Linked DNA regions of Homo sapiens: all the other regions are linked to region 2. Evidence: fine-mapped expression QTL. A gene starts in region 2. Each other region holds a variant in brackets. All regions are shown on one strand. Distances are between the middles of the regions. Region 1 has its middle 18 kb from the start of LINC01304. Region 2 holds the start of ADI1 (acireductone dioxygenase 1). Region 3 has its middle 6.8 kb from the start of TRAPPC12-AS1.

Evidence for each region. PIP is the estimated chance that this variant, and not a neighbour inherited with it, causes the effect.
Region 1: its variant is fine-mapped to the expression of ADI1 in putamen (GTEx, PIP 0.99). The same link has a PIP of 0.9 or more in nucleus accumbens.
Region 3: its variant is fine-mapped to the expression of ADI1 in tibial nerve (GTEx, PIP 0.93).

What each region holds. Positions count from the first base shown.
Region 1 is chr2:3,991,046-3,993,807 of GRCh38, forward strand. No RefSeq gene overlaps it. Among named protein-coding and RNA genes, the nearest start is that of LINC01304, 18 kb to the left of the region's middle. The variant A/G (reference allele first, on the strand shown) is at 1,228.
Region 2 is chr2:3,518,367-3,521,128 of GRCh38, forward strand. It overlaps ADI1 (acireductone dioxygenase 1), which reads right to left and starts at 1,165. Exons shown (of 4, transcript NM_018269.4): 1 at 1,002-1,165. The coding sequence starts at 1,121. It overlaps LOC124907725 (a long non-coding RNA gene), which reads left to right and starts at 1,180. Exons shown (of 2, transcript XR_007086195.1): 1 at 1,180-1,590. RefSeq lists silencers at 72-271, 752-811, 892-1,211, 1,282-1,411 and enhancers at 831-1,352, 1,353-1,873.
Region 3 is chr2:3,488,630-3,491,391 of GRCh38, forward strand. No RefSeq gene overlaps it. Among named protein-coding and RNA genes, the nearest start is that of TRAPPC12-AS1, 6.8 kb to the left of the region's middle. The variant T/A (reference allele first, on the strand shown) is at 1,041.

The DNA of each region.
Region 1 (2,762 bases), 470 kb after region 2:
GAAAATGTTTTTTTTTCTATTGCATCATCAGCCTGCAAATTTTCCAAACTTTCATGCCCTGCTTCCTCTTGAACACTTAGCTGCTTAGAAATTTATTCCACCAGATACCTTAAATCATCTCTCTCAAGTTCAAAGTTCCACAGATCTCTAGGGCTGAGGCAAAATGCTGCTAGTCTCTCTGCATAGCAAGAGTGACCTTTACTCCAGTTCACCAAAAGTTCCTCATCTCCATCTGAGACCACCTCAGCCTGGACTTTAATGTCCTTATTATTATCAGCATTTAGGTAAAAGCCATTCAATAAGTCTCCAGGAAGTTCCAAACTTCCCCCCTTTTCCTGTCTTCTGATCCCTCCAAGTCTCTAGGAAGTTTAAAACTTTCCTACATTTTCCTGTCTTCTTCTGATCCCTCCAAACTGTTCCAACCTCTCCTTGTTACCCAGTTTCAAAGTCGCTTCCACATTTTTGGGTATCCTTATAGCAGCACCCCACTTCTTATACCAGTTTACTGTATTATCCTGTTCCCATGTTGCTAATAAAGACATACCCAAGAGTGGGTAATTTATAAAGAAAAAGAGGTTTAATTGACTCACAATTCCACATGACTGGGGAGGCCTCACAATCATGGCAGAAGGCAAAAGAGGAGCAAAGGCATGTCTTACATGGAAGCAGGCAAGAAAGCATGTGTAGGGAAATTACTCCTTATGAAACCATCAGGTCTCATGAGACTTATTCACTATCATGAGAATAGCAAGGGAAAAACCCGCCCCCATGATTCAATTACGTCCCACCAGGTCCCTTGCACAGCACACGGAAATTATGGGAACCACAGTTCAAGATGAGATTTGGGTGGGGATGCAGCCAAACCATATCAGATGATTACTTTCAGTTTTTCTTATTTTCTAATAAAAGTGCTTAGGAATATAAACTTCCCAATATTTTATCAGCATACCACAAATTTAGATATATAGTATTTTCTTAAGTTAAATCTTAAGTAGTTTTTAATTTTTATTATGATTTTTTATGATTTATTAAAAATGTTACAAGAAAAATAATAATGAAAAAAGAATGTTTGGGCATTGCTGTGGCTTGTCACTGATTTCCAGCACAATTGTACTGTAGTCAGAAACTGTGATCTGTAAAATATCAATTTTTTTGCCATTTGTGATGTCTTGCCTTGTGGTTTTTTAGGTATTAAATTTTTATAAATTAAATGTTTCATGCATTAAA[A/G]ATATTTATTCTATAATTCTTGGTTAAAATTCTCTACGTATGTTTAGTTAAGATTGTTTATGAGTTGTTCAAATGTTCTCTACTGAGGCCAACAGCTTTTATATAGAACGTGATTCCTATCAAAAGTTGAAGACACAAAAACACCTTTGAGAAACTTTCTTAATGACTTCCAATTGTCAGCACAGAAGGTGTCCAGAAGTCTATGGGAACTTGCCAGCATTTGGCATTGTCCGTTTTTAAAAAATATTTTGCCCTTAAGAGTGTTGTTTTAATTTGCAGTTTTCTAATGCAAGTGATATTGAGAACCTTTTATATGCTTATTTGCCATTTGTATATTGTCTCTGGTGAGGTATCTGTTCAGATATTTTGTCTGCTTTTTCCTTGGGTTGTTTTCTTGTTATTGAATGTAAAAGTTCTTTATATATTCTGGATACAAATCTGTAATTAGATATGTGGTTTTCATATATTTTCTCCAGGTTTGAGGCTTGTGTTATCAATCACTTAATAGTATATTTTATAGAGCAGAATCTTTAAATTTTAATTAGTCCAACCTAAATGCTTTCTTTCACGAAACTGCTTCTAGTGTTGTAGCTGAAAATTTATCACAAAATCCAAGGAAACAAAGGTTTCCCTTTAAGAGTTTTTTAGTGTTGTATTTTTCATTTAGGCGTATGATTCATTTTCAGTTAATGTTTGTGAAAGGTGTAATGTCTGCATATAGGTTCTTTTTTTGGGATATGGACATCCAAATGTTAAAGCACCATGTGTTGAAAAGACTACCCTTTCTTCACTGAATTGCCTTTGCTCCTTTGTCAAGTATCAGCTAACTATATTTATGTGGGTCTATTTCTGGGCCCTCTATTCTGTTCCCTATTGATCTATTTGTCTTTTCTTTCATGAGTATCATGTGGTATTGATTACTGTAGCTTTACAACAAATCTTGAAATTGGTAGTGTTAAGTATTTCAACTTTTTTTTTTCTATTTTATTGTATTGTTTGTTCTAGGTCTCATCTTTTCATATAAACTTTAAAATCAACTTGTTGATTTCTACAAAATAACTTTCTGAGATTTTGACTGGAATCATGTTGAGTCCATAAGTCAAGTTGGATAGAATTAATACCTTAACAATATTGAATTTTCTGATGCATGGATACTGAATATCTCCCCGGTTATTTAGATTTTCTTTGTAGTTTTTTATGTATAGATTCTGTACATACTCTGTTGGATATATACCTAAGTATTTAATTTTGGGAGAGGAGCAGGTTATTGGAACAGATATATTAAAAAAAATCTTGAATCCCAATGTTCATTTCTCATATATAGGACAGCAGTTGACTTTTATAGGTTAACCTTGTCTCCTGTGACCTTGCTATGCTCGTTTATTAGTTCCAGGAGTGTTATGATTCTTTAGAATGTTTTACATAGATAATCATATCATCTGTGACTAGAAATAGTTTTATTTCTTTATTTATTTAGTTCCTTTATTTCATGCACTAGGTAGGAATTCCAGCATGATATTAAATAGGAGTGATGA
Region 2 (2,762 bases):
ATTAGATCCAGTCACCCCTCAGCCTATCCCTGAGGCCTACCCTGGCCCTCTCTTTTGCAGTAAACCTTTGTTACTGCAAAACCATTTGCAAATAAACAAGGTGAGCGGATCTGGACTGGTGCTGTGCAAGCAACGGGACACCGGTGCAAAGCCTAGCCCCGCCTTGCAAAGCTAGCGTTACAGAGGCAGGGCTGACACCGGGCCCAGCCGGGACCCAAGCCAGCTCCACCGCCCACTGGAGACGCCCCCACCCCACCACCGAGCGCTACCCCCCGGGGATCCCCGACAGACCGCGGCAGGACCCCGCCTCGATCTGCTGGCGCCCGGTCCCTCCCCCAGGACACTTTCAAGCGGAGTCCCCCTTCCTCCGATAGAAGAAACCCCTGGGCCTTTGACCGAGGTTAGCCAGGCAGGCAGGGCGTCGGACAAGCCCAACGAGCCCACGAACTCGCAGCCCGCCTCCGGCGAATCTTGCAGCCCTGCCGGCCGACCCTTCAGGTCGCTGCCAATCCCGGAGCTGCGCGTGCGCAGCGAGTCCCGGCTGCGAGGCCCCTGACTCGCCAACTCTGCTGCTGAGCATGCGCAGCACACCCCAGGCAACAGAAACGGACCGCCGACCCCCACCAGCCCCGCTGCTGAGCATGCGCAGCCCACCCCAGGCGCCGGAAGCCGACCGCCAACCCCGTAAACTTCGCTGCTGAGCATGCGCAGCACACCACAGGCGCTGGGGGCTGACCGCCGACCCCTCAACGCCGCTGCTGAGCATGCGCAGCACACCCAGGCGCCGCGCAGGAGGCCCTGACCACCCAGCCCCACTGCTGAGCATGCGCAGCCCACCCCAGGCACCGGGAGCCGCCACGAACCCCCAAATCCCGCTGCTGAGCATGCGCAGCATGCCGCGGCTCCCAGGCCGCTGCCCGGCACCTGGAGGAGGCTGGGCTGTGCGCGGCGTTTGGGGGTCGGCGTCGCCCGCACGCTCTGCGAGGCTTGGGCTCGCGTACCTTCCAGTAGAGCACCCCGAGCCGCCGCAGCTGCTCCAGGCCCACTGGGCGGCCGGGGTCGGGGCGGTGGGGTTGCCGCGGGTCGCCCGGGGCGTCGTCCATATACCAGGCCTGCACCATGACGCGCAGTGCGGGTGCCGTGTTCGAACCCAGGGGCCGCGCTCGGAGCCCGTCGGCCGCGCTTTATCTTATAGGGAGGCGTGGACGCGCATGGGAGCCGGGATTGGGCGGCTGGTTGGAGGCAGGGCCGGCGCGGGGGAGGCCCCACGGCTCCGCTGTTTTCGGAAGCAAAGGCATTCAAGCCCCGACCCTGTCCTGGGCACCCTCGGACCTGCCTGAGGCCCGCGGCCCGGGGCCAGCCGTTCGCCAGACGCGCCGGGCAGGTGAAGCTCACCGTAGGCATCGCACGTGCCTTGTGTGTGCTGCCGCGGTCTCCCTGCACCTTCAGAGCAATCTTGTGAGGCAAACGACGTTAAACGTGTTTAGAGTATGGAAAGCAAATGCAAAAAAAAAAAAAAAAGAATAAGGATTTTGTTAAGCTCATGCAGTCCATATGGGCACAGTTGAGACTTCACAGCTCGGATCCCAGGTGAGACATTGTCCTCCACCTCCCCGCTCGCCAGACTTTTGCAGTGTCGGCATTCTGCAGTGCTACCCTGTACTTTTTAAACTTCCTCTTGTTTCCTCTTTTCATCGTTTCTCCCTTCCCCATACACTGTAATGTGCTAGTCTTAGAATAAAAACAAGCTTCCCCTATCCCATTCTGAATTTTTCAATGTAGCTAATAAAGTCCAGCCGCTTGACCATCCTAGATGTCTTTTCAAACCAACGAGTTGAAAAAGATCAGATTATCTCAGCCATTCCCTCAGTCTCTTTAACAAATAACGATAAAGCAGACAGGATTTAAATGAGACTGCTGTAAGAGCACAACCCCAATGCATGCAATTGACTCTTGAACTTCCAGAAATATTGCAAGAAAAATACACACTTATTTCATTTCTGTTCCCTTGCTCTAATGGCTTTGCAAATACATCCTCCTTAGAGAGCCTACCTCTCCACCTCTTCACTTGACCAGTTACTACTCATCCTTCAAGAACACACCTTAGACGCCATTGCCCATTTTTCTGCAGCACTCATGACAAACCTTCATGCAAGAATCTAATGGCAATCTCGCACCTCGCATTTTCTCCTTAAGCCACTGCAATAAGGCTTCGCTTCTCACCACTGGGGAACTGCTAATGACTGCCATATTGCCAGATCCAATCATGGCACTTCTGTTCTTACCAGCAACATTCGTCACAGTTGCCCACGCCCTTCTTGAAACATTTTCTCATTTTCCTTCATGAGGGCATCTTGGCTGCTCCTTCCCAGGCCCCTCCTAGCTCCTGCTCCTCTAACCACTGGTTAGTGGAGCGTTCCAGACTCTCCTCGTCCTGTTCCTATCCACTCACTCCAGGCGACTTTCCATGCTGTGCTGCCGGCTCCTGCAGCCACATCTCCAACCTGGACCTCATTCCAGAACCTCAGGCTTGAGTATCCAGTTGGTGTTGTCACATACATGGCTAATCAGTGTGTCAAACCTAACATGGCCAAAACAACTGATTCCCCACACACACCCCCAAACATGCTTCTCCCTAACCTTTCCCGTCTCAGTGAACGGCAGCACTGACTGCCCAGTGGCTTAATAAAAAAATCTAGGTGTACTCTCAGTTTTGCTTTTCCTCACCCTCAAGATCCAATCCAATCTATCAGCAAGTCATG
Region 3 (2,762 bases), 30 kb before region 2:
GGATTTTAGAATGGGTGGGTTTATAACTCAGATGAAATCCTATTTGGATTTTAGAATGGGTGGGTTTATAACTCAGATGAAATCCTATTTGGATTTTAGAATGGGTGGGTTTTTTTGAACAGTTGGTGCAAAATAAACACAAGCATTTTTAACATGGACAATGAAACACATTAAACTATAATAATAAAGGCAGGCAGGCAAGCACGTCCATGGGAAAGTGGTTTCAGTTGAAAAGTAAGCTCCACCCCAGAACTGTCACACCTGCACTGCTCACGCCAGGGACAGACCGTGATAGGAGCACAGCCTCCTGTCCTCCAGCCCCCGCCCAGCCCAGCTTCCCCAGCCCTGCTGACCTGGGGGCTGTCTTCATGCCTGGATGCTTCTAGTGCCCTGCCCCCGCCACGTTTAAGAGAATGTTTTGAAAAATAATCACTTCCCAAGGCAGAAAACAGAGAGCAAAACACAGAGCGATTCAGAAGAGCCGCCTGCTCAGGGGTGCCCCGGATGTTATCTGCAACCTGGCACGGCCCGACTGCAGGCCTCAGCCCTGTGCCCTGGCCCCACCTGAGCAATTCCTCTGCCCTCTTCAGGGCCCAGCCAGGTGGTCACAGCAAATCTGGTCAGGACCAGGGACAATCAGCCCGCAGGGACGTCCTGCCTCAGCCATCCACTTGATGGTGACGACTGCCCCGACCCCTCTCTCTCAGCAGCTGTGCCTGCCTGGAGCCCCCGTACCCCTCACCCGGCCGTAAGGGCTGCTGCACCCTCTGCTCTCCTCACTGGACTGTGGCGTCCTGAGGAACCCACCAGCCACTTTCTTATGCATCTCGGCACTCAGGGGACAAAACCAGCTCTCCCGGAGGGGCTTGTGGGACCGAGTTTCACTGAGAGACATGGTGAATGGAAGAACTTCACGCATCATAGCAGGCAGAGGACTCCGGGAGCCCTTGACCCAACCCACAGGTCATCTTACCAGTACTAGCGACTCACTGCGGTAGTGAGTTGGGTGAGGCCCAGAAGTCCCTCCTGGTCACTTGCGA[T/A]GGGATGAAGATATTTTTGAAACCTAGAGAGACAGGGTTATCTAACAGAGTAAGAAAGCCAGGGCTGGCTTCTTTCCCCTCGGAATGAAGTTCAAGCCTCCTCTGTCCCATAAGTGCACAAATGTCCACCGTGCTAACTTTACACGCTCCATTTTTACTTTGGGCAAGCAGGATTTGCAGCGCGGGAGAGATGACCTGGACATGAGCCGGCAGTGGCCTGCGCACCACAGGAGGCCCTTCAGCCGACGGCCATGTCTGCGCTGCGCGATCCTGTCCCTGTCAGAGCCGCTGACCTGGGTCTAGTCCCACAGAACCTCTCCTGGAGCCTTGGGGACCAGGGCTGGCAGCTGAAGTCACTCCTCTGCGTAATGGAATGAGAAGTAAGGCTTTAAGACGTCAACACTGTGTCTACACTGTGTCCCACCGTGAGCAGACGTGGCTTGGTCCCTGATCCCCCAGGGCAGGCACCCCCAGGCACAGGCTCCTTCACATTGGGCTTCTGTCACTTGTAACAAAAAGAGCCCCAACTAAGACAACAGAAGAGATCGTGTAACGACATTTCGAAGCACAGAGTCGGAATCCTGGGAAGACGAGAACGGCAATCCTGGGCAAAGCTCCAGGCAGATGCAGGGCCAGAGCCTCCCTCAGGGCTCCTCCCAGGACCTCCCCCCAGGGCTCCTCCCAGGACCTCCCCCCAGGGCTCCCGGCCTCTGCAGGTTGCCTGGGACAAGAGGTCTTCCTTCCTAGTCCCTCTAACCTCTCCACTGAGAGCACCCCATGAGCCTGGCGCCCCAGGCACTGTGCAGGAGGGAACAGCAGGCCGGCAGCCTCTGCCCTGTGGGTCCGCACAGCCTGGGGAGCGGGGACAGAATGCACCCCCCACTGCGATCCCACCTGTCTGCCTCCATCCTTCCCCATCCACTCCGAGGCCGGACGTTGCCTGACTAGGACAGCTCTTCTCCTATTTCTCAGATGTCTGTTCCATTGGTTTCTCTTTGTCAAGATGTCTGATCCACCGTCAGCAGTTTCTTGAGTGGAGGTGAGCACTGTGGTTAGGGAGTCACACTTAGGCACCAGTTACCTACGCCATGTAACAACACTGCTCTGAAACTTGTGCCTTATGACAGGAACATACATTCTCGCCTGCAGTCTCCGGGTTAGCTGGGTGGTGTGGGGCTCTCCTGAGGTTGCCCTCAAGGTGACGGCTGGGGCTGCATCATCTGAAGGCTCAACGGGGGCTGGAGGACCTGCTTCCACACACCCCGAGCCAGCAGCACTGCTGGCAGAGGCCTCAGACCTCCCCAGAGAGCTGCACAAGTGTCCTGCGGACGTGGCAGCCAGCTTCCCCAGAGCGCAATGTCTGAGAGCAAGCAGGAAACTACATGCCAACAGAGGCCACCCACAGCCACCTCAGCCGCTTCCTACTCATTAGAAACAAGTGACCAACAGAGACCATGCTGAAGGGGAGGATAAATTGAGGGAGATCGTCAGAAACTTGTGGTTGTATTTTTTAAAACAACACACTTAATTTTTTAAAAAATTGTTGTCATTTCACTGGATTTGGGGCACTGGGGAGACTGACCCACATCTTCTCCTCCACCACCCAGATTCCTATCATGTGCTGATCTGAACGTTTAATTTTCAGAAAGGAGAAAGTCTCCTCCAAGTTCTTCAGGAAATTCATCCCAATATTCATCAGATGCTTTTAAGGAACACCAGAAA